4 linked regions of the Homo sapiens genome follow. The protein of the gene in region 3 purifies or fractionates together with the protein of the main gene of each other region. This does not show direct contact. Each region holds a gene or a part of one and is shown on either strand. Other genes may lie near its edges. The genes, in order: LRP6, ITPRIP, RASSF1 and MTHFR.

Evidence for each region.
Region 1: the proteins of RASSF1 (region 3) and LRP6 purify together in Homo sapiens (affinity purification with mass spectrometry; 3 studies listed by BioGRID and IntAct, with this or other methods). This does not show direct contact.
Region 2: the proteins of RASSF1 (region 3) and ITPRIP purify together in Homo sapiens (affinity purification with mass spectrometry; 4 studies listed by BioGRID and IntAct, with this or other methods). This does not show direct contact.
Region 4: the proteins of RASSF1 (region 3) and MTHFR purify together in Homo sapiens (affinity purification with mass spectrometry; 3 studies listed by BioGRID and IntAct, with this or other methods). This does not show direct contact.

The regions. Positions count from the first base shown.
Region 1 is NC_000012.12:12,159,026-12,166,048, reverse strand, and holds part of LRP6 (low-density lipoprotein receptor-related protein 6 isoform b precursor), read left to right. Parts: intron 1-753; coding exon 754-970; intron 971-1,486; coding exon 1,487-1,776; intron 1,777-3,629; coding exon 3,630-3,856; intron 3,857-6,084; coding exon 6,085-6,269; intron 6,270-6,893; coding exon 6,894-7,023. UniProt on the Homo sapiens protein: Component of the Wnt-Fzd-LRP5-LRP6 complex that triggers beta-catenin signaling through inducing aggregation of receptor-ligand complexes into ribosome-sized signalosomes.
Region 2 is NC_000010.11:104,328,464-104,335,486, reverse strand, and holds part of ITPRIP (inositol 1,4,5-trisphosphate receptor-interacting protein precursor), read left to right. Parts: intron 1-1,581; exon of another isoform or gene 1,582-1,860; intron 1,861-1,988; exon of another isoform or gene 1,989-2,149; intron 2,150-6,494; exon of another isoform or gene 6,495-6,622; intron 6,623-7,023. UniProt on the Homo sapiens protein: Enhances Ca(2+)-mediated inhibition of inositol 1,4,5-triphosphate receptor (ITPR) Ca(2+) release.
Region 3 is NC_000003.12:50,330,831-50,337,853, reverse strand, and holds part of RASSF1 (ras association domain-containing protein 1), read left to right. Parts: exon of another isoform or gene 1-343; intron 344-403; exon of another isoform or gene 404-534; coding exon of another isoform or gene 535-681; intron 682-722; exon of another isoform or gene 723-1,094; intron 1,095-5,699; coding exon 5,700-5,804; intron 5,805-5,997; coding exon 5,998-6,295; intron 6,296-6,404; coding exon 6,405-6,520; intron 6,521-7,023. UniProt on the Homo sapiens protein: Potential tumor suppressor. Required for death receptor-dependent apoptosis. Mediates activation of STK3/MST2 and STK4/MST1 during Fas-induced apoptosis by preventing their dephosphorylation.
Region 4 is NC_000001.11:11,802,965-11,810,422, reverse strand, and holds the start of MTHFR (methylenetetrahydrofolate reductase (NADPH)), read left to right. Parts: upstream 1-4,458; 5' UTR 4,459-4,535; exon of another isoform or gene 4,536-5,076; intron 5,077-6,885; exon of another isoform or gene 6,886-6,908; coding exon of another isoform or gene 6,909-7,018; intron 7,019-7,293; coding exon of another isoform or gene 7,294-7,306; coding exon 7,307-7,458. Other genes in the region: CLCN6 (H(+)/Cl(-) exchange transporter 6), read right to left, coding at 3,233-3,292, 4,074-4,160. UniProt on the Homo sapiens protein: Catalyzes the conversion of 5,10-methylenetetrahydrofolate to 5-methyltetrahydrofolate, a cosubstrate for homocysteine remethylation to methionine. Represents a key regulatory connection between the folate and methionine cycles.

The sequences.
Region 1 (7,023 bases), on a different chromosome or scaffold from region 3:
GGTATCCCAAGTAAGTCAACACTGAATAGTGCATGGTGAATGCACTGTGAATACAGTATGAATGCCAGAGTGAATTTAATAATGTTACTATTAGGTAGTTGGAAAGAGAAGGTACATCCTAGTTTCTTGAAACTTAGATGCAGAGAGGGTGTCATATAATCCCGATACTTTTGTGATTATAATCTCAGAGGAATGAGAGATTTATTGAGATCCCTTTTATCTGTTTTTTGTTGTTACTGACAACAACAACAAAATAAAAAGCATGCTAAGTGGAAAAAGTCCTGAAAAAGACATCAACTGTGTTTACAAGCTCTGTGACCTTACATGAATCTCAGTTTCCATAGGCAAAGCTCTCAAGATAAAATAAAAGATGTTATAAAACAAAATATATGATAAAATAATGTATATGAAGGTACATTATAATTTGAAAACAAATGTGCAAACTTAAGGTGATGATACTGTATTTTTAATTTTGCCACAATTGTTTAATAGAAGAGTTGCATAATCTAAAGTTGCCAGAATTTTTAGAAGGAAGAGTAATATGAGATTGGGGGGAAAAGTGGTCAAATAGAGGCTTATATGGAAAATTTGAAATCATTTTTATAAAATCATCATGTAATTTTGAGAAAGCATTGTAATAGGAATACCAAGATGACTCTTGGATTTTTATACAACAGGCAGTTGGATTTGTTATTTTTAGCTGAAGAATAAATGCATAATTCATCCCCTTCTCTTTTGAATTTAAACCTGAAGGTTATGAATACTGATGGCACTGGGAGACGAGTACTAGTGGAAGACAAAATTCCTCACATATTTGGATTTACTTTGTTGGGTGACTATGTTTACTGGACTGACTGGCAGAGGCGTAGCATTGAAAGAGTTCATAAACGAAGTGCAGAGAGGGAAGTGATCATAGATCAGCTGCCTGACCTCATGGGCCTAAAGGCTACAAATGTTCATCGAGTGATTGGTGAGTAACTCCAAAGCTTTCTTAGAAATGGGAACCAGGAATGAAAAAAGATGGAGATAGTCAGCAGTGTAAATTATTGATGTTTTGAGGCAATTTTGAAACCTTCTTTACTGCCCCCCCGCCTTTTTTTTTTTTTTTTTTTTTTTTTTTTTTTTTTTTACTGAGAAGGGACCTTTTAAACGTTGACTTACTACTCTAGCTACCCAGTTTGAATTGAAGGGCTGAATACACATGCACAGGCACACCTTCATCAAAAGAATTCAGTCTGATAGTATGAATAATATACCTTACTTTAAAGCTTACTGTGGTATTAAAGGAAAATACTTCACCATGCTTTTACTCCCTATTAATCTGCATATTACTTGTTTGTGATATTAGAATTGAAACTTGAGATTGGGAGCAAGACATAATCATAGGCATTTGTGAACCAAACGCTTAAGTAATTTAAAAGTGAAAATATGTTGAATGTATCAATGTGTGTGTCCTTCTGTGCCCCTTTTATAATTAATCTTTTAGGTTCCAACCCCTGTGCTGAGGAAAACGGGGGATGTAGCCATCTCTGCCTCTATAGACCTCAGGGCCTTCGCTGTGCTTGCCCTATTGGCTTTGAACTCATCAGTGACATGAAGACCTGCATTGTCCCAGAGGCTTTCCTTTTGTTTTCACGGAGAGCAGATATCAGACGAATTTCTCTGGAAACAAACAATAATAATGTGGCTATTCCACTCACTGGTGTCAAAGAAGCTTCTGCTTTGGATTTTGATGTGACAGACAACCGAATTTATTGGACTGATATATCACTCAAGGTTAGCAAAAGAATTGGAATATTAAAGCTAGGGACTAAAAGGGAGAACTTCTAGAATTTCTGAATCTTCATGCTGTGACCCACCTCCCTCATTGTTTGACAGGCAGAGTTCAACAAAAACCCTCAAGTTTTTTTTTTTTTTTTTAAACGGTGTCTTGCTCTGTCACCCAGGCTGGAGTGCAGTGGTGCAGTCTCGGCTCACTGCAACCCCTGCCTCCCAGGTTCAAGCGATTCTCCTGCTTCAGCCTCCCGAGCAGCTAGGACTACAGGTGCGTGCCACGACGCCCAGCTAATTTTTGTATTTTTAGTAGTGACGGGGTTTCACCATGTTGGCCAGGCCGCTCGAACTCTTGACCTCGTGATCCGCCCGCTTCGTCCTCCCAAAGTGCTGGGATTACAGGCGTGAGCCACCGCGCCCAGCCAAAACCCTTAAGTTTTTAAGTGAAGGGAAAGGCCCATTCAGTATTTTATTAGATGCTTTTTAATACAGATACTTTGCCAGAGTGTTTTAAATCTGCAAGCCATAGTCTTCCTCTACTTTCTTCCATTTGAAAATGATGAATGACATTTTCTGCAATTAGCTGAGTAAGGAAATGTGTGCTTCACGTAAAATGGCTGTTGATTTACTTTAAAAAAAAATTCGTGATTTACTTTAAACAAAATTTTAGGGCCTGACTGAGGCGGAAAAGGCCAACAATGAGTTATTCTTTATTTTCTTCTTCCTAGAATAGTTACTGAAAAGAATACCAGGATAGCCAGAGAGGAAGCTCCCAACCTATAAATCTGAAGAATAATCTTTTCTTCTTCCAGATTGTTTTGGGCTTGTTTCAGATAACTCATGTAAACTTTTTTGTAATATGCGAAAACATGGGGTGTTGGAGTCAGAGTTGGATTCTAATGGTGTTCAGTTAAATTTATTAAGTGAATAAATGAAATAAATAAATTTTGGTTTGCATTGGGTGATGTTCTAAATTTCCTCATCTTGAAAATGGGGGGTGGCTGGGTGCGGTGACTCAGGCCTGTAAATCCCAGCACTTTGGGAGGCTGAGGCACATGGATCACCTGAGGTCACGAGTTTGAGAACAGCCTGGCCAACATGACAAAACCCCGTCTCTACTAAAAATACAAAAATTAGCTGGTCATGGTGGCGCATACCTGTAATCCCAGCTACTCGGGAAACTGAGGCACGAGAATCACTTGAACCTGGGAGGCAGAAGTTGCAGTGAGCCGAGATCATGCCACTGCACTCCAGCCTGGGTGACAGAGTGAGACTCTGTCTCAAAAACATAAAATAGGGGTGATGCCATACTTGCAGGACTGTTGTATTAAGTGACAAAATCTACGGACAAAACGTACTTAGGATAATACTTGATAAGATGTATCTATTATTAGTTTGAATTATGATTTTTAAAAGTGTTATGGGACTCAGTGCTATAATGGTAGTATAATGGTTACATTCATTTATATGGTAGGCATGATGACTTGCCATAATCTTAAGCACCTTTAGAAAATTGACCACTAATTAAGATCTGTAGCATTGTGGTCACAGCTTTTCCACTTGATTACTGATAAATTTTAAAAGTAAAGTCATTCTGCTGTTAGTAGAATAAATTTTTGGTGCATTAGAGTTTTAAAATTTCTCCCCTGAATTGGCAGTAAAACTTGAAGTTGCATTTATTAGAGATTGACATCAAATTTTTCTGTGCTTGCAAGTTATGTGAATTTTAATAGGAAATAGTATGCCTCTTGGCACTTCTGGATCCTCTTGCCCCTGACAAAAACCAAACCAAACCTTCTTTCTGGATAGGGTTTAGACTTATGCCATATGACTTAGTTGTTAATGTTCTTTTGCAGACCATCAGCAGAGCCTTTATGAATGGCAGTGCACTGGAACATGTGGTAGAATTCGGCTTAGATTATCCAGAAGGCATGGCAGTAGACTGGCTTGGGAAGAACTTGTACTGGGCAGACACAGGAACGAATCGAATTGAGGTGTCAAAGTTGGATGGGCAGCACCGACAAGTTTTGGTGTGGAAAGACCTAGATAGTCCCAGAGCTCTCGCGTTGGACCCTGCCGAAGGGTAAACAGCTTTACATGTGCATTCTTTGCAACTGCAGTGTACATTTCGGGGAACATGGCATAGTTACAGATGATATTCTTAATGTTTTAAATAATACGTATTAGGAATCTGAGAACTAAATGATAGATGAACTTTTAAAAACACTATTGATATTTTGCTGATTTGAATGAATAATTATTAGCTAATTTTACTCTTGTCGTAATTAACTTTAGGTGAAGAAAGAGGGGAATGGGTTAATAAATGTTACTGATGAGTATACTGATATGTTAAGTATATATACCAAGAGGTATTATCCATCTGTAGTTGCTTGCACTCCTTCCCAGTTATACTAGATTCCAAGCCTATTGAAGTAAACCCACCGAAACAATGTTGTGAGCTAAGAAAAAACTACATTTAAAAAGCTTTATTTTGGAGTATTTATTAATTCAAAATGGATAGTTTGGTTTGATCATTATTATAAACTGGCAGTAGCTTTGTTATTACAAGATAGAATAAACTGTTCACAACATGATGTTTTTCAAGGGCGAGTGTTCCTTTTTACAAGAGTCAGCAAATTTTTTAAAGCCGGCAGCTAAGAAATCTGAAATCTAAAGAAAAATTCCACTTATAAAAGAAGTCAACAGGCCGGGCGTGGTGGCTCACGCTTGTAATCCCAGCAACTTTGGGAGGCCGAGGCGTGGGCAGATCACAAGGTCAGGAGTTCGAGACCAGCCTGGCCAACATGGTGAAACCCCGTAACTACTAAAGATAAAAAAAAATTAGCCAGGCATGGTGGCATGTGTCTGTAGTCCCAGCTACTCTGGAGGCTAAAGCAGGAAAATTGTTTGAATCTGGGAGGTGGAGGTTGCAGTGAGCCGAGATCGTGCCACTGCACTCCACCCTGGGCAACAGAGCAAGACTCCATCTTGGAAAAAAAAAAAGAAGTAAACAGTGTGAACATATAAATATGTTTACTGTATTTGCTACTTAAAATAATTTCCCTGAAGTGACATTGATTCCATGATTAGCTAGTAATTCATCTAGTCAGCACTGACATATTGTGGTGATCTTTGCTCTAAACATTAGCTGCCAGACAGATAAATTTAATAGTTGGGACTAATTGGTTGCTGCTGGCAAGTATGAAATTTCTCTCACAGTTGTTTCTCTTTGGCTCTTGTGGTGTGCACATGCCTGTCAAATGACAAGTGCAAATGCATATAAAGGCAGGACACCTTCAGTTTTCAGAAAAGCATGTTCATACATTGCTACCAAGTCAGCTATCAGCTGACAGGCTGATGAGTGAATATATGTCCTCAGGTATTTCGTGAGAGCTGGCATGTGATGTGCTTTTTTAGTTCCAGTATTCAAGAGTCTCAAAAACTAGCACCTCACTAGTTTACTTGAAAGGGCATTTGGCCAAGGATTAGGTTCTAGTTCTAGCTCTGTCATCTAACTGGCTTGAAGACATTAGATAAGTTGTTCACATTTCTTGTAGTGTTTTGGGCTCTTCATCTATAAAAAGCCTATACTGTAGGATTACTGTAAGATTAAAGTGCAAAACTCAAAAATGGAAAATAACAGCAAAGTAATTATTCTAAAATTTCACAGAGATTGTTGTAGCGTAGTGTAGTGTTCATTGCCCAGTGGACACATCAAGGGGTGAGTCGTTGTTCTTACCATATAGTATGCTCCCTTGGACCATATGACCAAATACATTTTCAAGCTTTGCTTTTGACTTCAGTTAAAGGCTTAGTATTTATAATTACCTTTCATGTACTTCTGCAACTTATTTTGAGGAAGAGTTGATTACACAAGTCAAAAAGTAAGTTCAGCATATTAAAAACTCAAATTAGTTAATATTCAAAAGTATATAAAAATATTTTACTCAGAAGTGAACCAGATTCTGAGACCAGAGCTTTAAACCTTTGCTGTTTTCTTGAATGTTAATTTTACAAATGCCAGTACTGCAATAAACTGTTGGTTTATTTCCAATTCCTAGGTTTGGATGGAACAAATGTATTGGAAAGACTAAGGAAAGCTGACTCACTTCCTTTTTGGGATATGGAAAAAAATATTTAGTTTAGGGTGCCAAAATAATTGAAAGCATTGTAGCCGTGATTTTGTTTAACCCATTTCCTTGATTTGCTGTATGTTTTCTTTAAATTTATTTAGTTACTTTGCATGAATATGACTCTTTCCCCCAGATAATAAAAAATTGAAATGTTAAATATTTATTATTTTGAATTTAGATTTATGTATTGGACTGAATGGGGTGGAAAACCTAAGATAGACAGAGCTGCAATGGATGGAAGTGAACGTACTACCTTAGTTCCAAATGTGGGGCGGGCAAACGGCCTAACTATTGATTATGCTAAAAGGAGGCTTTATTGGACAGACCTGGACACCAACTTAATAGAATCTTCAAATATGCTTGGTAAGCTTTACTACTTTTTACTCAAACAGTATATTCTTTCCATGCAAATATCAGTGGCTGCTATTTATCATTGGTTAGATACTTTTAATACAACTTCATATGAATGTGTCCATTCTTCTTCTGTTCTGGAATTGTATCCTGTTTGTTATTAATAGTGATCCAGGTACTTGGATTCATCTTTTTATTATGTGAAAGTTTCATTATTATTGGACTTGTAATGAAATTTATAACTCCCTAGATACTCCTGAAATGACTTTTGTACCAGTAAAATATATATATTTCCATCTTTTCCTTCTATAGTTCAAGAAGAAAAAGTGAACTGTAGACCCTTATATAGAGAAAATAAAACCACATTTAAAGTAGACCATTTGCAAGAATTTTAGGAAACTGAGTGATTTGTAGCAGGAATATAAGTTTGAAGCATGGGGTCAGAAGATAGATTGATTTCAGAGAATTGGTCTCGTTTTAGAATTGCTTTTAAATGAATTTTTCTATTTTAAATTGCTTACAATGTAATGTTTTATATGTTAGGGCTTTTTTTTTTCTTTTTGCCAGCAAGACACTTGTATTCTCACATATTTCATCACTCTGCTTCTCCCCTGTCTACTGCCTTTCTGAAAATAGGGCTCAACCGTGAAGTTATAGCAGATGACTTGCCTCATCCTTTTGGCTTAACTCAGTACCAAGATTATATCTACTGGACGGACTGGAGCCGACGCAGCATTGAGCGTGCCAACAAAACCAGTGGCCAAAA
Region 2 (7,023 bases), on a different chromosome or scaffold from region 3:
ATGAGTAAGTGCCCCCAGGTGTGGCTCAGAGGGAAACGGCGGTGGCTGCACGCAGGGTCCTGACCTAGGCAGAGAGCGAGTGGAAGGAGGTGAGACAACTGTCCTGACCTTCCAAACCCCTAATCCCCATCTGTGGTCTCTTGCTTCCTTGTTGAAGTCCCATTCACCCACAAATGCCCTTCTCAAGTTCGTCCAAGAACCCTTCCTGAAACTCCATTTCACAGTTCCATATACATGATCTCTTAGTTTCCACACCGTACAGCTGAGCGCTTAATTAGCTGGAACCGAGCATTTCACTATGTACTGTCGATAGGCACTTTAAACAAAATAGGCTTCTCATCAGTGAGGAAGTCAAGATGCCTCCTGGGAGGGGCCAGCTGGTGCCCAGCAGATTGCTCAGAGGGTGGTGTTTACCTGGATCACGTCACCTGTCCCAGGGCATGGCTCTTAGCTGTGCCCGCTCAGAAACCCAATTTCCATAATTTTCAGAGTGGTTTGGACTCAAGCTACTGATTCACCCTGAGAAAGCTCCCAGAAGAGGGTGTACGAATCAGAATGCTGGTTTATTAATTTGCAAGGAGACTTCGCAAACATCACACAGACTGAATGTCGTCTCTTCCCTGCGTCCTAGACAAGCCATATGGGAAACCAAAGACCAGAAGGTGGACTGCGCTTATCAAAGCTGGAGTCAGAACCAGGCAGGAGCAGCATGGGGTGAGGGTGGGGGACAGTGATGTCCAATAGTGCAGGGCTTTGTCTACCTCTGCGGCCCTCTCACCAGCAGAAAGATAGCTGCCAGGTAGACTGGATACTCAGGTCAGCCTGGCTATGGGCATCTCCTTGGCCAGTGCCTCAAGGGCAGTATTTCCCTGAGAAATCCTGGTAGCATTTCTCCCTTTCCTCTCTCATAATGTAGTAATTTTTTATTTTATTTACCTATTTGTTTAGTGCTTTGCAAGCATTAGCTCCCAGAGACATAGATTTGCATTTGCGTAAATTCGATAACTACTGTACAATCTCAGAGTTGTAGGGCCAGGCCATGAGAGTAAGTGCTATATGCAAATCAAGAGGATGATCCGGTAACCTGGATGGATCAATAGAAAGCCAAGCATAGAGCAAAGACACGTGGTCCCCAATCAGCATGGAGGCTGGGCCAAGGCTGGCCAGTTGTTGCATCCCCTGCGTAGGCCAGGGGGTGAAGCATTCCTAAAGCAGTGCCTGCTTCGGCTGCCTCAGGCAGCCTGCCCTGCTCAGCTGGCCTCTTTAGATTTAAAGGGCTCTTTCTGGTCTCTGTCCAGGCCCTTCATGGCTCATCTTTAATGAGCCACATCTCCAGGTGCCCAGAGCCAAGGCGGTGTGACTGCACGGGCTTTGAAGTGGGGCAGACTTGAGTTGAGTCCTGGCTCCACCACTCGGTGGTTGGGCGTTCTCAGTAGTTGGGCAGGTGCCTTGATTCTTCAAGTCTCGGTAACATCATCAGTAAAATGGGGATGACCCTCAGGGCTGTGGGGAGGGTTGACCCAGACGATGCACAGAAGGCTCTGAGCACCGTGCCTGGCGCAGACTGGAAACCTGGCCAGTGTGCGCTCTTCAGGACAGCAGAGGTCGGTTGGAGGTCTGCATTCTCTGCCGACTTGGGCCCCAACTTCCCCATCAGGTCACTGCTCCCTCCTCTGAGGTCTGGACAAAGGACAAGGCTGTAGGGACCTAGACTGTCCTAGACGGGGAGGACATCTATCCTCAGTGGTCTTTCCAGCAGTTTGTTTGGAGCTGCTCATCCTGATCTTTTGGCTGACTCTGGCAGAGGGAAAGTCAGATTTGAGGCCTGAGCTCTAACAGGCATCCAGAGAGGAAGGAAGGGTAAGGAGCTCTTCTGGGCGAGGAAAGGGGTCATTTGGGAGTGCCCCAGAGGCCTGTAGACCCCTCCTCAACAGTTTAGGACCTGTGACGTTTCCCCACAGAGAGCACATCCCCCCTCTATCTGTTAGGCCCACCCCGTGACATCAGTGAAACGGAAGCACCCTGCAGGTGACATCACTGTTGCTCAGGGCAACGCCTCCACCCTAAGGCGGACGGGGAGGTGAAAAATCGGCCTCAAGTGTGAGACGCATGTTGAAGGGAAGGGACATAGAAGGTGTAACGTTCACAGGTGTGTTTCTCAGAGGCTGGGGAGAGGATGGGCCCAGTTAGCGGCAGGGTGAATAGAAGAGGGAGGTGCTGCAGTCTCAGATCTGGGCTGTGTCAGTTGGTGGTGGGTCTTTAGGCCTTGGGTCAGAGAGCGCAGTGCTGACAGCTGCAGTCTCCTTCAGTTCTCTGAACGGGACTCCTTAGGGGTCCTCCTGCAGCCTGGATCTGTAAGGAGGGTTAGGGGAAGGGCAGGCTGGAGCAGTGATGGGGCCATCAGAAAAGTGACTTTCCATTCTTCAGCCTCCCCACAAAAGAGAGTGAGAAATAGGATGCTCACATCCTTATTACGGGGGCTTCATTGATCGAGCAGCCATTGTGTATCTGTTATGCATGGCCTGTGCCAGGGATTCAGCGGCCTCGTGGAGCGTTATGATGAAATGCACATGGAGAGGAAGAGTGTATGGAATCCACTGCCCCAAGAGGCAGGACCAACTGGAGATAGGAATCCCGTCTCACAGTTCACCTCACTCAACTTAGCATTCCCTGTGGAATTCTAGATGGGTTAAACTAAATTCATGGAATGCTTTCAGTTGGGTGTGCTTGAGATACACTTGCTAATTTGGGAGTGGAGTCAGAGGGGGCAGCCATGGATGTCCATCTTGTCCCTGGGATGGCACTGTTTACAAGGCTGAGGTCACTCAGCAGTTCTGATGCTCTTAACTTGGTGACCTGTGTTTCCGCCACATCTTATCAGGTGATGCCTGCTGCTTCTCCTAAGCAAGGGCTGCCAAATGTCAGCACAGGAGACGAAAGAGGCAGGAAAGGGAGGACTCCCTGCCCTGAAGAAAGATGAAAAACTAGATGATATAGTAGGTGTCTCTGTAGAGGTTTCAGGAATCGCCTTGTCCTTCCACTTGAAGGCACCTGATTAAAGTTTTTGTTTTGTGCAACTAGGCATAACTTCAGGTGCTTTTCTGATGTCCAGCATTTCGGTGGCTAAAGTCATTGCCCTAATTCTTGTATGCACCTAGCTTTTTCAGGTTTATAAATAAAAATTAGAGTATCATTAATCTGCAGAATCCACCGTTATGGATATGACATTGTTCATATAAGTAGAATGGCCTTATTAAAAAAAAATAGTGGCTTCATTTACTGAGCAAAGCCCCATTCTAGGGGTTTACACATATTTATTTCTCCTCCTCACAATGGCCCTTCAAGGTGGGTGTTATCCTAGTTTTACAGGTGAAAGAACAGACTCAGAGGGACTTGCCCCAAACGGACAACAACAGAGAAGAGATTCGAATTTAGATTTGCTCTCTCCCAGGGCCTTGGACTCTTTCTGCCACCTCAGGCGTCTGTCTGGACACTGTAGCCCAGAACACATACAGATGGCATAAAGAATCCCACAAAGTTTTAAGTGTCAATACTGAGAAAACAGCAAGCAGACCACCAACTCCAGGCCTGAGACTTCTGGTCCCTTCCTGCTGTCTCACTCTGATATTAGCAGACCTAGTGAGCTTTGGAGACTCCTTCTGCCAAGAGATTCTGTGAGTGTGGCCTGAGCTATCTGAGGGTGAAAGGAAGGAAAGGCTTTCCCTTCCAGCACTGTTTGCTTTTCTGTTTAATAGGCACAGTAACAACCAGTTCCTGATAATATTCAGAGCACTTTGCAGTCCTCTGCTGGAAGTCCCTAGGAAAAATACAAAGCCCCGCAATTATCAAATGACTCACTTCCAGGTGCATAACACAGTGGGACACTCACTGCCTGGGAAGAGGGGCTCAGCTTGGAAGCAACCCTGGGCTGCTACTGCTTTCTCTCCCTTCTAGGTCATTTCCCTGAAGCTGATGCAGGAGTCCCCCCAACTCTCGCCCCCTCCTCCTGTATCAAAGCAGCAGGGAAGGTGTTGTCATTATTTTGGCCCTGCCCGCTAGTGCAAAACCATGTGCTCATAACATACTGTTCTCATGGGAGCCGGCTTCAATAGCCTCTTAGCAGCAGCCGGGGGACCCGCCTGAAGTTTACGAACGCGTCCTTTGTTTGCTGAGACTTTGTTCCAAAGTTCCCAAGGAGGCAGGGGTGCAGCATGCCTGGGCTGGAGGGTAGGAGAGCAGGGGCTGCCTGGGTCCTACCCCTGTGTGCTGCCCCAAAATGTCCCTAATGTACCCATGCCGCTTCCTGACATTTCACCCCAACACATGCCTACCTGCCAGTGTCAAGAGAGCCCTCACTCCCTTTTTTGCAGAGAAGGCTTTCCATTCCTTTTATCTCAAATAGCCCAGGCCACACTCACAGAATCTTGGTAGAAGGAGTCTCATAAGTTCATTAGGTTTTACTCCCTGCTTCATGCCCACATTTCATCTAGATTGTCACCTACCCTTCCCTAAACAGTCCGGGTGAGGAAAGTCCATAGGTACATGTCTAATGTTTCACAGATACCAGGTCACTGAGCAGCACAGCTCGTGGCTTCATGGGAAGAGTATAGGCTTGAAAGTCAGATAGGTTTGGATTCAGATCCTGGCTCTATGATGTTGGTGAGTGGCCTCACCTCTGTGCCTCAGTTGCCTTATCTGTAAAATGGAGATAAGTGCCTGCCTCAGAGGTTTGATGTGAGAATGATACATGTAAAGCTTTATTGTGCAATGCTTAAGCCTCAATAAATGGGATGCAGTGGTTGTAATTCATTAAACCCTCCCATGGTGTGTCAGGGCCCTGAGGCTTGTCCAGTTTTTTCCTGAAAGAAGAATTACTTCTCTGCTCCTTCTCTTACTCTGTAATCCTCTGTTTATTTCTACAAGAAGCTTGAGCAAGAAGGGAGGTGTCCACGGCAAGGCAGCTGAGGGTCAGAAAACGTGTCAGGGTTCATTCCTGGGCCATTTTCTAAACGTTGGCAGTGAGTCTGCCTGCAGTTACATGAAGGCCAGTCCAGACCAAACGGGGCTGCAACCGTCTCTGTCTCCAGGGCTACGTCTGGAAGGGATTTTGCTGGAAGGGATTTTCCAAGGCACTTACACTGTTAGCACTTTGTTTTTCTGACTGCAGTGCCCCTCCCAGGAAGAAAGAATGTAGAAGTTACTTTATCCAGAGCTTTCCACTTCACTCCAGGAATTTCAAATTCCTGCTCCTGGGAGTAAAGGCAGTGAGGTTCTTTTCCCAATCCTAACTCCATTCATGTATTCAGCAAGCATTCATTATAGCAACTACCCTCTTCCAAAGCTGGGTACTCAGAACCTAATGGAAGAGCTGTCAGTGTCAATGATGCCAGATTGGAGGGAGTAAGGGAGGGTGCTGCTGACCTTCCTAGGTCTCCAAACTTCCTCCTCTTCCTCTGTGTCAGCCCCTGGGGCCTTTAGAAGAAGACAAGGAGGTGGAGGAGACAACTTAGTCATACTCCCCAGGCTTCTGGAGGAGCTGCAGGGATGTTGTTCACCCACTTCTTCCCAGAGGACTCCTTAACATGCAACCATGACGATTTAACAAATCAAAAAGGAGACATGACCGCAGCACCAGTACCAGTGCCAACAGCAGTATCATTTACCAAGCACTGCCGAGTGACTGTGAGATGGTCCACAAGGCCATAAATTGGACACTATTGCCATAGCAAGTTGTAGAGCCAAGATTCAAACCCAGGCCTTCTGATTCCAGAGTTTGACTCCTTAGCAATGGTTCTCTAAGCCTCTGCAAACTGTTAAGCTCTTCTTAGCTGATGAGCTTTGGGCTGTTTCTTTCTCGGTGACAGTAGGAGTGGAAATGAGCCTGTGTGAACTTGACACTATCAGTGGCTGCTTGCTGCCCACCTCAGTCTGACTGACGCACATATGAGTCATGGGTCCATGCATTCAGCAGGCATTATTTGGACACCTACTGGGTGCCAGCACAGCCTCGGTGGAGCACCCGCATCACACCTTATTGCTCCGTCCCTGTGACTAGAAAATGATGTCATAGTAGGGTTGTTTTGTGCAATCCGTAGAGAGTGTGACTCTGAGTAGTCATAGGTACTTCTGGGAGCAATTTTGCTAACTGTTCCTAGCCTTACCATGTGGGCCCTCTGCTCTCCAGAGAGGAGGAGGACTGGTTTGCTCTGACTAACTGGTGTGGGAGGGCTGGCAGAGGCCCGGCTCTATTGTTCAGCCCAGATCCTTGCAGCAGAGCACAAGCAAAGACGCTCTTAATTTTTTTTACAGCTGGGCTGGCCTCCCCTTTGTCTTTGTGTCTGTTACTGTTCCCCTTTATTGAGATGAAAGGGGTTTTTAGATCTTTGCAGGGAGAGTGTGTGTGTGCGTGCATGTGTGTATGTGTGTGTGTGTGTGTGTGTGTGCATGCGTGCAGGAGGCCCACAGCGCTTCTCTTCCTCTCCCCTCCCCGCTCTCCCCAGCCCAGCTGGGGCCCAGGCTTTGTGTCAGGTACCGCCTAAGCCGCAGGGGGACTCGGGTAGAAGAACAGTCTGGGATTTCTTTCACTGTGTGGGGCCTAGAATCTCAGGAAGCCAGGACGTGGGTAAGAGACCAGTGGGGTGGGGAGGCTGAGGTGGGGAACAAGCCTTTCCGAGGTCGTGGACAAGGCCTTGGGGGGTTCATCCTCCCCCATCTCCTAGAGGCAGAGTGTCTTTCTAAGCTGGGCTCTCTTTGTTCCCATCCAGGGGTCAAACAGAAGGTGGCTGCTGGGTGCTGGCCCTTTATTTAATTCCATCCATCCTAGTTTCTCAGTGAAAGGGGGAAAGTGGAAGGGGGCGGGGAGTGGCCAAGGGAGGGCTTTGTTCCCTCCTTGTTTTCCTTTGTGTTTACTCCCGGTTCTGTTCCAGTCCCTTCCCCTTTCCATTGAGTCAGTGTGTCTGCTATTGTGCAGAGCCTGCGTCTAAGCGTGCAGCCTCCCCTCCCTGTCCCACTGAGAAAGTGTGG
Region 3 (7,023 bases):
GTGCAGGCATTCTCGAGGGCTGCCTGGGTGCCGCGCGCAAGGAGCGTTCTAATTGCCGATTTCCCGGCGGCACAGAGAGGCTAATTCTGCGCGGGGGCTGGGAGGGGAGCCTGGATTGCCGGCTCCGCAAGTACTCCACCCGCTGCAAGCGGACCCGGGCCCAGGCTGACCCAGGCTCCGCGCACGCGCACTTCCCGCACCTTCCCGCCCTCGCCTCCGGCCAGAGGCCACTCTTGTGCGCTTGCCCGGACGCTGGCACCCGCCCCCGTTCCCTGTGGTAGGTGGGGTCTGTGAGTGGAGCTCCGGAGCGATGAGGTCATTCCTGGGGGCGAAGCGTGCGTGTCCCCGCCCCGGCGTTCCTGCCCCAATGAGACAAGAGCTAGATCCCGGCGATCTACGTTTCAGTCTTAACGGTTGCGGCGCGGCTCTGGCCCGGGCGCACGCGCACACTGACACGCGTACACGCACGCACGCGACCGGGGCGGTGGTTGGCGGCTACGGACGCGCAGGACTGGGGGACGGGCGGGTACGGCTATGGGCGAGGCGGAGGCGCCTTCTTTCGAAATGACCTGGAGCAGCACGACGAGCAGTGGCTACTGCAGCCAAGAGGACTCGGACTCGGAGCTCGAGCAGTACTTCACCGCGCGAACCTCGCTAGCTCGCAGGCCGCGCCGGGACCAGGTGGGAGCCAGGGGGTGCCGGCGGGCGGGAGGGGAAGCGGTCGCTGGAGCTCCGCCCTCCCCGGTCCGTTGCCGCGTCCTGGGTCGGTGGGCAGCCCCACCCTCCTGGCTACGTGGCTCCCCGCGGGTCCTGGCCGGGGACCTGCCCGCGGAACCGTGCGTAAGACCCCGATTCCACCGCCTAGATGCTGGGTGCCGGGGCCCCCTTGGTTTCTGTCACAGACAGGTTGAACACGGAAAAAGCAGCTGTATGGCTTGTGGTAGACCTGAGCCGGGCATTATCCAGCTATGACTAAAGCCGACCGAGCAGTTTGGACTAGCACCTCGATTTCCGCGTTCGAATGCTCCTGCTCCCTCCTTGGGGAGACTAGGGGAGGATGTGGAGAGGGAAGAGTCCTCGCCAGGAATTGAGAAGTATGTTTAGGAAAACTTGAGAGGCAGAGAGAGATCCTGCTCCTCCATCTGCACTCCTGTATGGAGCCAGCTGAGCCCTCACCTCTTCCCTGTTCTGGCCTGTCACCAGCTGCTGGAATGTGGAAGATTCTGTTCCCTTCCTCTAGGGTGGATCTGGAGAAAGATTTGGGAATAGATAGGAAAGAAGTCTTGTTTTGGACCATAAGCATTCAGGAGCACTTTACCCACAGGAAGGGGGAAAGCTAGATTATAAAATGCCTAAAGAGGTGGAAAAAGAGATCCAGGTTACTAACCCAGGACTGTAAGGTGTCTCGGAACCTCCTAGGTATCCCCATTATCGGAGAACTGTGTGCCAGATGCCATTGGTGTGACCACCAGGCTCAGAGAACCAGGCCTAGGCACCAGGAAAAAGAAACAGGGACTGTGAAGCTCAGTATGCCTGGCAGAAATGGGGCGGAAATCCTTATTTAAGTAAAGAAAGTGGAGTTGTGAGTGATGCTTCAGATAAAATTTTACAAAATTCCTTACAAAATGGGTGGTGCTCAGCACGCCAAAATCTTAGCCCAGAGCTTGGGTGCAAGGGTTGAGTTGAGTGTAGACCCCTGGGCTTGTCTTCATGTCAGTCAGTCCTGAGCCATTTTCCACTGTGGAAAGGTGGGAAAACCACAAGACACTAACCAATTGAAAAGGAGGGCTAGCCACGGAGGTGCACACCTGTAATCCCAGCTACTTGGGAGGGTGAGGCAGAAGGATCACTTGAACCTGGGAGGCAGAGGTTGCAGTGAGCCAAGATCGTGCCACTGCACTCCAGCCTGAGTGACAGAGTGAGACTCTGTCTCAAAAATAGAAAAGGAAGCCAAGTACGGTGGCTCACACCTCTAATGCCAATGCTTTGGGAGGCCAAGGCAGGTGGATCATTTGCAATCAGGAATTCGAGGTCAGCCTGGCCAACATGGTGAAACCCTATCTCTACTAAACATACAAAAATTAGCCGGGCATGGTGGTGTGTGACTGTAGTCCCAGCTACTTGGGAGACTGAATCACTTCAACCGGGAGGCAAAGGTTGCAGTGAGCCAAGATCGTGCCACTGCACTCCAACCTGGGTGACAGGGTGAGGCTCTGTCTCAAAAAAAAGAAAGAAGGCTGGGCTTGGTGACTCATGCCTGTAATCTCAGCATTTTGGGAGGCCAAGGCAGGCAGATCACTTGAGGCCAAGAGTTCGAGACCTGCCAGGCCAACATAGCAAAACCCCGTCTGTACTGAAAATACAAAAAAATTATCTGGCCATGGTGGTGTGTGCCTGTAATCCCAGCTACTGGGGAGGCTGAGGCAGGAGTATCACTTGAACCCAGAAGACAGAGGTTGCAGTGAGTCGAGACTGGGCCACTGCATTCCAGCCTGGATGAGAGAGCAAGACTCTGTCTCAAAAAAAAAAAAAAAAAAAAAGAAAGAATAGGAGGCTGAGAAGTCCCAAGTTATATGTTAAAAAAAAAGAAAAAAACATCAGTTTTAGGCCAGGTGCAGTGGCTCACACCTTTAATCCCAGCACTTTGGAAAGCCGAGGTGGGTGGATCATGAGGTCAGGAGTTCAAGACCAGCCTGGCCAAAATGGTGAAACCCCGTCTCGACTAAAAATACAAAAAATTAGCCAGTTGTGGTGGCAGGCACCTGTAATCCCAGCTACTTGGGAGGCTGAAGCAGAGAATTGCTTGAACCCAGGAGGCAGAGATTGCAATGAGCCAAGATCGCACCACTGCACTCCAGCCTGGAAAACAGAGCGAGACTCTGTCTCAAAAAAAAAACCATCAGTTTTTATGGACAGTGGTAGAGTGGAGGGTGGGTCCCTATGGTGCAGAAGGGAAATTCCATGGTCCTGCTGTGCATCCGACTGGGATGGCTGTTGAAATCCTCTTCCAGCAGGCAGCTTTGGAAACAGAAAAAGAAACTCTTCCTCCTTTAGAATCCTGGAAGGGCTGTGCAGTGCCTCTAATCCAAGTCTGTTTTCTGAGTGAAGATAGGGAGGTTCATCACCAGAAGGGAAGGGGCTGGAAATGAGGTCACTGCATCCCAGCCCAGGGCTCCTGGGTCATCCAGGAAGGGAAGAAGGAGCAAGCTTTCTCATTGTTAGGTAGGAGCTCAGAGCCATCACAAGAACAAGTTAGCACCATCCCTGTGCCCTCCCTGTTCTGCAAACAAAATGATCTTCCTTCTTGCCCTGGCACTAGAGTCTGTCTGGCATTTCTCCTGCCCCTAGTACTCCTCCCATCTGGGTACTTCTTCCCGTTGGTGTACTGAACAAACACATCCACTGCTTTATTCACAGCCTCCAGCCCTCATTTTCCAGGGCCCACACCATTTGTTTTTACTAACCCGACAAGGTTGCCCACTGTCCCCAGTAAGGTTTGTACTGGGGTTTTTACTCCAGTGCTCTTCTCCATCCAGGAGACCTTTGGATACTTGGGGAAGAAAATGAGCTTAAATTCCCACCCCTCCCCCTTTACCTTTTTCCTGTAAGGCCCTGGCCTTAGTTCTTAGCCCCACATCCTTGCTGGCTGCAGAATAGCAGCGGGTTCTGGGTAAGGAGCATTCTGCTAAAACGCTCCACCCTGCTCCCTCATCTGTCCTCTCCATTTGTCCCCATCAGATGGTTTAAGTGCTTAAGGGGACTCCAGGGCGGAGTCAGGGAGAACCCTGGCTCTCCTGGGCTAGGCACAAGATCATTCTACAGGAAACCTTGTGGGAATTCTTCTGGGACAAAGTATTGGTCAGCGCTGAGCTTAGCTGTGTCTGTGACACTCGCATTCTAACTAGGGCCTATCTGACGTCAACAGGAAGTAAGGCTGATGCAGTGGGGCCAAGGGAGTCTGGGAGAAGAAAGTCGGTTCAGAGCCCTGGCTGCCCTGTCCCACACTCCACCCTTCCGGCAAGAATCCAGTCCCTAGATGAGGTGGGGAGTGAGTGGTCGAGTTAAAAATCTCTGGGTCGGGTACGATGGTTCACGCCTGTAATCCCAGCACTTTGGGAGGTGAAGGCAGGCGGATCACTTGAGGTCAGGAGTTCAAGACCAACCTGGCCAATGTGGTGAAATCCCATCTCTACTAAAAATACAAAAATTAGCCGGGTGTTGTTGTGGCACGCGCCTGTAGTCCCAGCTACTCGGGAGTCTGAGGCAGGAGAATCGCTTGAACCCAGGAGGCAGAACTTGCAGTGAGCCAAGATCCAGCCACTGCACTACAGCCTGGGCGACAGAGTGAGGCTTCGTCTCAAAAAAAAAAAAAATCTTTGGGCCAAATCTCCAGACAGCACAGGCAGGTGCAGAAACCCACCAGGAAGCTGCCTGTGTACCTCTGGCAGATTGGAGCCTGGCCTAAAGCTGCCTTTTATGCAGCTTGGGTCAAGGTTAAACATCATGTCACAGTGATTTTTCTCACTATGTGTGAGACATGGAGAACTGGCTCCAAGTACTACTCTGTCCACTGGTGGCTGGACTACTGATGTGCACCACTCTCCACTCCTCTCACCCTGCAGTGGGTCATGGCCCCGTGCCGGGGCAGAGGAGAAAAATGGGCTGCCTTCTCCAGGACAAACCCTCACTCCAACTCAACTAGGGTGCTGTGATCAGAATGTGCAATTGAGGTGTGATTTTACTGATTTTTTTTTTTTTTGAGACCGAGTTTCGCTCTTGTTGCCCAGGCTGGAGTGCGATGGCACGATCTCAGTTCACTGCAACCTCCACCTCCCGAGTTTGAGCAATTCTCCTGCCTCAGCCTCCTAAGTAGCTGGGATTACAGGCATGTGCCACCACGCCTGGCTAATTTTGTATTTTTAGTAGAGACGGGGTTTCTCCATGTTGGTCAGGCTGGTCTCAAACTCCTGACCTCAGGTGATCCACCCGCCTCGGCCTCCCAAAGTGCTAGAATTACAGGCGTGAGCCAACGTGCCCAGCCTGTTTTTGTTTTTTGTGTTTTGAAGCAGGGTCTCACTCAGTTCCCCAGGCTGGAGTGCAGTGACACGATAATAGCTTACTGTAGCTGCAATCTCCCGGGCTCAAACGATCCTCCCACCTCAGCCTCCTGAACAGTTGGGACTACAGGCACACCACCACACCTGGCTAATTTTTTTTTTTCTTTTTTTAGTAGAGATGAGGTCTTGCTATGTTGCCCAAGCTGGTCTCAAACTCCTGAGGATCAAGTGATCCTCCTACCTTAGCCTCCCAAAATGCTGGGATTGCAGATGTGAGCCACCACACCCAGCCTGATTTTACTTTAAATGAGAGTCCCTCTTCAGAGTCCCTCAGCTGTTCCTGGCCCCTGGCCATGTGCCTTCAGTTGCCCCTGCTTCTGTGGTATCCTTAAGGCTACATTCAGTGCTGAGGCCCTAGGCAGGCAGCAGAGAGAAGCCAAATGATTCTGTCTTTCCCTTATCCACCCAGAGCATGCAAAACCAGGAGCAGTGGTGGGTTCAGGGTGGGCACCAGCTATGTATATGTACATCAGGGACAGGGGGCCAAAGGCAGTCAGTTTCCAAAGACTGCCCCAGAGGCCATTTTTCAGAGAAGCCCTGGGTTCCTCAAGGGCCCTGTGTCCATGCTGGCCCATCTTGCAGGACGAGCCTGTGGAGTGGGAGACACCTGACCTTTCTCAAGCTGAGATTGAGCAGAAGATCAAGGAGTACAATGCCCAGATCAACAGCAACCTCTTCATGAGCTTGGTGAGTTGACTGCTCAGGAAGGGGGCGTGGGGAGGAGCAGGTACCCAGCTATGTGCCTGATACTCAGAGGGTCACAACTGAGGTTATCTTGGGTGGGCGCAAGCAGTAATTTGTGCATACCCAGCCTAGCCCCAAGTAGACTGACATCTCACCTGGAACCTATTATCAAGGTTTGGTTTCTCTATTTCTTTAGAACAAGGACGGTTCTTACACAGGCTTCATCAAGGTTCAGCTGAAGCTGGTGCGCCCTGTCTCTGTGCCCTCCAGCAAGAAGCCACCCTCCTTGCAGGATGCCCGGCGGGGCCCAGGACGGGGCACAAGTGTCAGGCGCCGCACTTCCTTTTACCTGCCCAAGGATGCTGTCAAGCACCTGCATGTGCTGTCACGCACAAGGGCACGTGAAGTCATTGAGGCCCTGCTGCGAAAGTTCTTGGTGGTGGATGACCCCCGCAAGTTTGCACTCTTTGAGCGCGCTGAGCGTCACGGCCAAGGTGGGCTTCCCACCCCACCCTGCCCTATGTGAGGGTATATACGCATGCACCTGAGCATGCAGGGGCTGAGCAGCTGGCCCTGTCTCTGATCATTACTTCCCCTTCACAGTGTACTTGCGGAAGCTGTTGGATGATGAGCAGCCCCTGCGGCTGCGGCTCCTGGCAGGGCCCAGTGACAAGGCCCTGAGCTTTGTCCTGAAGGAAAATGACTCTGGGGAGGTGAACGTGAGTACATAGTTCTTAGTTTCTTGGTTGTCACTAGACAGGACTGATGGGCTGTAGCTACAGTAAGGCTTGGAGGAGGAATTGTGCTGGAAGACAAGCCCTGCAAAACAGTTCCAGGAGTGTATAGGCATTGTAACTAAAGCAAAGGCTTCCAGACCACTCATGCCAAAGCCTAGGGTTGTCCCAAGAAGCCAGGAAGAATTGCCTTGGTGCTTTGATCTTTCCTGGTGTGGAAAATCTTCTGGAGATGCAGGAGTCCATCTAATGACATGAGGAGGCCCCCTTCAGACTTTTTACCTGGAAGCTTTCTGGCTCCAAGGTATTAGGCCTGTGGAGTGAAATTAGACTCAGAATATGCCTGACCTGTCCACAGGTAATTGGGGAACATCTGACTTGGTTGTCTCAGTAAGGTGACCGTTTTGTAGGGCCCATCTTCCATACAAACTGCTGTCAGGGATCCTACCAGAGATCATTCAGCCAAGAGCCTGACATCAGAAAGCCCA
Region 4 (7,458 bases), on a different chromosome or scaffold from region 3:
TTTAATTCTAAGTCTTACGTTCTGAGTGTGCCTCTTTCTAATTCAAAGGTACAATATAAATAGACTGTGTGACCTGCATGAAAACATTCCTGTTTGCAATGGCACATCTCACAGAAAGTTACCATTTTTCAAACCACCTATAATGAGAATGGATGTCAAAATGGGATTCTAACATTTTGTAAGACCCTAAATTTATCAAATAAAGAGTCAAATATGTGCAATGAACTCTTCCTGAGACAGGAAGAAGGGGCACTTTTTAGAAAGATATTCAACAGAAGGGTTTTCTAGTTGACTGACTATCAAGGTAGAGAAAACCCTATAACTCCATTCATTAAAATATGACTATTAATACCTTACTAAATATCCTTCTACATCCTTACCCACGTTTTTATACACATGCTTTTAACACGTGTTTTAAATAACAAAAATGAGATTCCACTAAATCAACTATTTTAACCTGTCCCACTCACTCCCCTCTTTATTATACTTTTTGTGTCAAGTTGATTTATTTATTGAATAAATAAAATCCAGACTTTTCTGTTTAAGTGCCTGAATTTGTTCTTACACAAAGCAAGTGCTCTCAAGAAGCTCATTCTTGAAGATGGTTGAGAAATATCAATGACCAATATCAAAAGAACATTAACCCATGAAATGTACATGAATATGGCCACGCGTGGTGGCTCACGCTTGTAATCCCAGTACTTTGGGAGGCTGAGGTGGGTGGATCACCTGAGGTCAGGAGTTCAAGACCAGCCTGACCAACATGGTGAAACCCCATCTCTACTAAAAATACAAAACTTAGCCAGGCATGGTGGTGTATGCATGTAGTCCCAGCTACTTGGGAGGCTGAGGTAGGAGAACAGCTTGAACTCAGAGGCGGGGGTGGAGGTCGCAGTGATCCAAGACCGTACCACTGCATTCCAGCCTGGGCGACAGAGTGAGACTCTGTCTCAAACAATGACAAGAACAACAAAAATTTACATGAATATGCATATCAGCTGAAGGCAAGCACATTACAAATGTAAGTACAATTTAGTAGAAGGGGTGAGGGAGCCTGGGTGTCAATGGGGAAGCCTTGGTGAGCTCCTAGAAGTAGGATGAAGGCTGTGAGACAGTCTCAGTCCTGGTGATACAGTCAGGATGATGTAACAGGGTTCAGTGAGGGAGTGCAAGGTGACAGAACAATATGGAGTATCTTATACTAATTCCTGCAAACTTCTCAACTATGTACAAGAAAACAAATACTTACGAAACAGAAGAAAATGGCCAGGTATAGTGGCTCATACCTGTAATCCCAGCACTCTGGGAGACCGAAGCAGTATCACCTGAGGTCAGGAGTTCGAGACCAGCCTGGCCAACATGGTGAAACCCTATCTCTACTAAAAATACAAAAATTAGCCGGGCATGGTGGTGGGCGCCTGTAATCCCATCTACTCGGGAGGCTGGGGCAGAAGAACCGCTTGAACCTAGGGTGGGGTGGAGGTTGCAGTGAGCTGAGATCGAGCCATTGCACTCCAACCTGGGCACTAAGAGTGAGACTCCATCTCAAATTTAAAAAAAAGAAAAAAAAAGAAATAGAACAAAACACAGCAGTGGATACAGTGCTTTTTGGTTCATTCAAAGCAGTCCCATCAGAGTAGCATATTAAACTATACAAACGGCTCCAAATGGCAAAATCTAGACAGTAGAAAATCCCAGGTCCTAATTATGTTGTCAAATAACTTACAAAAAAAAAAAAAAGATGAAGGAAGAAGCTACAGATTAAAAGAGATTTAACAGATTTATCAAACAAATAAAAAAGGACTTTTGGAACCTAATTCAAATAAAGTTAAAATACATATGACATTTACAAGAAAACTGGAAAATCTGGACAGTAGATATTTGATATCAAGAAATTCCTAATTTTTTAGATGTGGTAATAGTATTGGGTTATGCTTTTTAAAAGTCCTTATCCATTAGAGATGCATATAGAATTATGGGTGAAATAATATGATGTACAGAATTTCTTTCAAAATAACATGGGAAGGGCGGCCAGGTATGGTAGATCATGACTGTAATCCCAGAACTTTGGGAGGCTGACATGGGAGGATCGCTGGTGTCAAGGAGTTCGAGAACAGCCTGGGCAACATAGGGAGACTGTCTTTACTTTAAAACACACACACACACACACACACACACACACACACACACACACAAACACACACACACATACAATAAAAAATAATAATATGAGAAAGGAGAAGTGGATAACGAAAGCACAGACAAAAGAAGACTGGGCTTGAGCTAAATCACTGTGGAAGCTGTGTGATGAGGACAAGGGGTTTCAACAGATTATTCTGTTTTTGCATATAGTTGAAATCCTTCATAATAAAAGTTAAACAAAAAAGTGCTACAAATCCTAACGCTGACACTAAATTCTACAGCATGAAGAATTTATGGAAGAGTGAGACTCTGTCAAAAAAAAGAAAAGGTTGTGGAAAATTACCTAATGATACAAAAAGTATAATAAAGGGGGTGAGTGGGACAGGTTAAAATAGATGATTTAGTGGAATCTCATTTTTGTTACTTAAAAAAAGCATGTATCATGTATATAAAAGCATGGGTAAGGATGTAGAAAGATACTTAGTAAGGTGTTAACAGTCATCTTTTAATGAATGGAGTTATAGGCTTTTCTCTACCTTCTTTATTACGTTTAAGAATTTAATGATAAAAAGTCACGCATGTTGTTTCACCCCAGCAGTGTTGGCTTTACTAAAAACACATACTCTAAGAATCCCATACATGAAAGGTGGAACTTAATCAAGAACATGTCAGAGAGAAGCTGCTTGAGCAAGAAAATATCTGAAAAGCAAGCTCTCCTAGAAGAGAAGCAAGGCCTCCTTAACAGTTTATAAGCACACACCTGTTAGGGGCACATACTGCCTGCCAGTGCCTTTCACTCTAAGTCTCTCTGTAAGCTGTAAAAGCAAACAGTTTAATGGCAAATACATACTCTATCCAGGTTAAGGTGCCACAGATTTATAAACGTGTAAAAACACCAGACCTTGTTTTGGGGTTAAGGTGAGAAAAGGGCTTGCTAAACAGTCTCTTTCCTAGAAGGAAGTTCTCTTACCCACTCACTCCCTGGGACAGAAGGTCAAAGAGCATCTCTGGTTGGAATCATAATGCTTCGGCCTGAAGTGACCAGGCCACTCACTACTTTAGTTGCCCAAGCAGTATCAAAGGAGCTCACCTCATAGTCTTTCCTTGGAAGAATCTCATCCTCCTCCTCCTGTGTTTCTCCAAGGATGGTCTAGAAAAACAGATCCGCAGAGGGAGCCTTTTTTAGTGGTTAGGAGTGGAAGGAGGCAGAAGTATTTACTGAAATCAGTGGCTAGCTTCTAAATCATCTGGAGCCATTATCAAATAGGAACCAGCCCTCAAAAAAAACCTTTCAGGGGTGAGGGACCATGTGGGTGAGGATCTACAGCCATCAGCTGAGCTCTTCATTTCCACTGATAGTCTCCAAATAACCACCCTCCTCTTCAGGACACCTCAAAGATGTCCAACGCCAGCTGAAAAGGGGGGTAAAAATGCAGGTTCCATTTGACAGTGTGACGTATCTGAAATCAGAAAGGACTTGTCAACTCTGGGAACACAACTCAAGTTTTCCCAGGATGCTTTGCAGGGGGAAGCTGGACTGTCAGTGACCCAGAAAGGGTGAGGGATAGAGTGAGAAAGGACTGGAGAAGCTAAAACAGCAGCATGATAAGCACAAAGTCCTGTGAGGAAGCTCATTCTGAAAACGCTTGTTTCATTCCAAACTCTTTTCAGATGGAAATAAAAGGAAACATGGGTGGGATTTACTGGAGCTGGCCTGGATTCTCCCTCAGATTCCAGGAGGGGTTATGAGAAAAGACCCCAGACTTAGGCACGTGAAGCAGGGTAGACGCTTCGAGAGCCCTGGCTGCGGTCCCCAGGCCCCACCCGCTGCCACCTGCGGGCCCAGATTGGCCCGGCCCCACCCCCGGCAACGCCTCTCTCAGTCCCTTAGCAACCGCCCCCTCCCCAGGCCGACTCCGCCGGCTTCTTACCAGCTCCTCGGGGGTGCGGGTCTCACGCTCACCGCAGCAGCAGCACCACCTGCAGCAGCAGCACAGAGACCCCCTGCACCCCGCCATCTTCCTCCTTTACTGCCACTCTGGACCCCTCTACCAACCCCCTCCCAGCCAGGATCTGCGCCTCACGTGACTGGCCCCGGGACGGTCACGTGGCCCTCTCGAGCTCTGGGACTGAGACCAGGAGTGGCTGCAGACGGGTGGGGCGAGGACTCGCGTCACATGACGATAAAGGCACGGCCTCCAACGAGACCTGTGGGCACGGCCATGTTGGGGGCGGGGCTTCCGGTCACCCGCGCCGGTGGTTTCCGCCCTGTAGGCCCGCCTCTCCAGCAACCTGACACCTGCGCCGCGCCCCTTCACTGCGTTCCCCGCCCCTGCAGCGGCCACAGTGGTGCGGCCGGCGGCCGAGCGTTCTGAGTCACCCGGGACTGGAGGGTGAGTGACGGCGAGGCCGGGGTCGCCGGGAGGGAGATCCTGGAGCCGGCAAACAACCTCCCGGGGGCAAGGACGTGCTTGTGGGCGGGGAGCGCTGGAGGCCGGCCTGCCTCTCTTCTTGGGGGGGGCTGCCGCCTCCCTTGCGCACCCTTCGCGGGATTAGTGTAACTCCCAATGGCTACCACTTCCAGCGACCGCCAACCCTCAAGCGAAGACTGACTTTGGCTCCCTGCCTGGACGGAGGGGCCCCTGAGCCAGGGGTGACGATCCCGCCCCTCTGACCGGCCCAGGCCCGTGTCCTCGCCCCCATCGGTGACTCAGTGACCTGGTGACTGGATTCTCGGCCACCTGGGCGCCGAGACGGCTTCCGGCTCCTGCCTTTTAAACCTGCCTCCCCGGCGATCACCTGGAGAAGAGCGCTGGGCCCGGGGCACTGCGGTCCCTGGCGCCCACTGCGTCCCGCTGCGCACGGGGGTCCGCCGGGACCTTTCTGGGAGTCGTAGGCTTAGTATCCCAGTGCTTGGCGCAGACTAGTTGTTCAGTAAGTGGCAGAGGCTTATTTTGAGAGAGTGGCAGCACCTGGCCCTTTGGCGCTCAGTGAATGTTGGCTATCACCGTGTGCCAAACTCTGGGGATACCCCAGGCAGGACACCGGTCCTGTCTCAGGGAACTGGGGAAAGAGAAAGGAGACAGGCCTTTTCACCCACAGTTACAACCCAGGGTGCTATGGGAGTCCAGCTGATAACGGATAAATCGTGGGAGTTGGCTTACAAATATGGCACATGCGTGGCATATACTAGGAATGCAATAAGTCTTTGAAAATCAGAGGGTTTACAGGTGGTTCAGCTTCCTCCTACTCTAGGTTCTGTTCCAGCAAGCAATTAACGAGGTGCGCCCTTAAACGCTGGAGGAAAGCCAACTGGCTGCTCTTGCTGTTACTCCTCCCCCCCGCCCCCGTTCCTCACTCCCCACAGCCATCCCCACTGAGAATCTGGAGTTTGAGGTCAGAATGAAAGAGAGCAGCCCTAGAGGGAGAAAGCTTTGGCCCAGGGTTCTTAGTCTGGAATCAACTCCTTGTCTTTGGATGTATCCCCGTGTAGTCTGTGCACCTGTGTGTGTATTTCAGGGGAAGGGAGCAGTGCATTTAATCAGATTGTCAAAAGAGTCTAAGACCCCAAATGGTTAGGTACACAGGGTTAGTGGTGGACAGTCTGAAAGAAATGAACCTCACCTGGGCTTTCCTCTGTTGTGCCATGTCACCACACACCCATTCACTACTGTGTGTTTGCCCATTGCTGTGCAAGTGTTTTGTTTGTTTTTAAGTGTTTGTCTTATTTTCTTAACCAGACTGCCAGATGACCCTATGCCCTCTGTTGGCCTGTCTGTGCCCTGGTGGCTCTGATTACTTGTTTCTGTTTTTTGTTTTTGTTTTTTTTTTTGAGATGGAGTTTTGCTTTTGTCGCCCAGGCTGGAGTGCTATGGCACAATCTTGGTTCACTGCAACCTCTGCCTTCCGGGTTCAAGCGATTCTCCTGCCTCAGCCTCCAGAGTAGCTGGGATTACAGGCGCCCGCCACCAAACCTGGCTAATTTTTATATTTTTAGTAGAGTCGGGATTTCACCATGTTGGCCAGGCTGGTCTCAAACTCCTGGCCTCAGGTGATCCACCCACCTCGGCCTCCCAAAGTGCTGGGATTACAGGTGTGTTTTTTGTTTTTTTAAGAGATGGAGTCTCGCTATGTTGCCCAGGCTGGCCTTGAACTCCTGGGCTCAGGCAATCCTTCTGCCTCAGCCTTCCCAGTAGCTGGGTCACTGTGATGATTTGAATTGAATTCTGTGATGTGTAAGAAGAGCAGCCTGCAAGGCAAGCACAGATGGGGCAGCTTTTGTTCTGAGAAATTCGTGCCCTTACTGAACTTGGGTCTGGCTATTTTTGGAACATGGCCAGCATCAAGTTCTAACCCACAACACGGTCTTTTTGGAGTAGCATGAATTCAGGAGAAATCTGGCTGCATAGTCAAGCCCTCACCCCTTCCATCCTGTGCACGAACTGTTTCAAGTAACAGATGTTCCAGGCAGAGCCAGCCAGAGTGAGCTGTTCCTTCTCTGGAGGGTGATCTGGTATCCCTGAACGCCTGTTGGCCTCATCTCCACCAACCCCTGCAGTCTCTGCCCCTGAGTCCCCCTCCTTCCATCCGCCTCCCCTTACTAGAGCCTCAGCCCTCCCTCCTCGCCTGGAAGCCTTGCCCCCGCCCCCTTGTGCTGGCTGGAGCTCAAGCCTCTTCCTTTGTCGCAGCTCCGCCCAGTTGAACACACCCGCTGGGGAAGGTGCCTCTGTTCCCTCCCCACGCACTCTGGGCCTGAGCTGACAGAGATGGACCATCGAAAAGCCAGGGTCCTCCCAGCTGGGCACTACTGCCCCTCGCTAGGAATATGGGCCTCGCAGGTCGGCAGCGTGAGGTCCTCTGTGCCACCTTCCATCAGGTAGCTGTCACCGAGGAGCATGTTGCAGTGCCGGGTGGGGGCTGCCTTGCATGCAAGGAGCCTGGCAGCAGCGGAGGGCAAGGCTTTGAGTGAGGCGGCCCGGACAGCCATAGCTGAGGAGCATGGAGCCACTGGGAGGGGGCAGTGTCACCTTTTTTGGCCTTCTTCCTGTGTGGAAATACAGCGCCTCCGGCTTGAACCTGCCACTCAGGTGTCTTGATGTGTCGGGGGTGTGGCTGCCTGCCCCCTGATGCTCCCTGCCCCACCCTGTGCAGTAGGAACCCAGCCATGGTGAACGAAGCCAGAGGAAACAGCAGCCTCAACCCCTGCTTGGAGGGCAGTGCCAGCAGTGGCAGTGAGAGCTCCAAAGATAGTTCGAGATGTTCCACCCCGGGCCTGGACCCCGAGCGGCATGAGAGACTCCGGGAGAAGATGAGGCG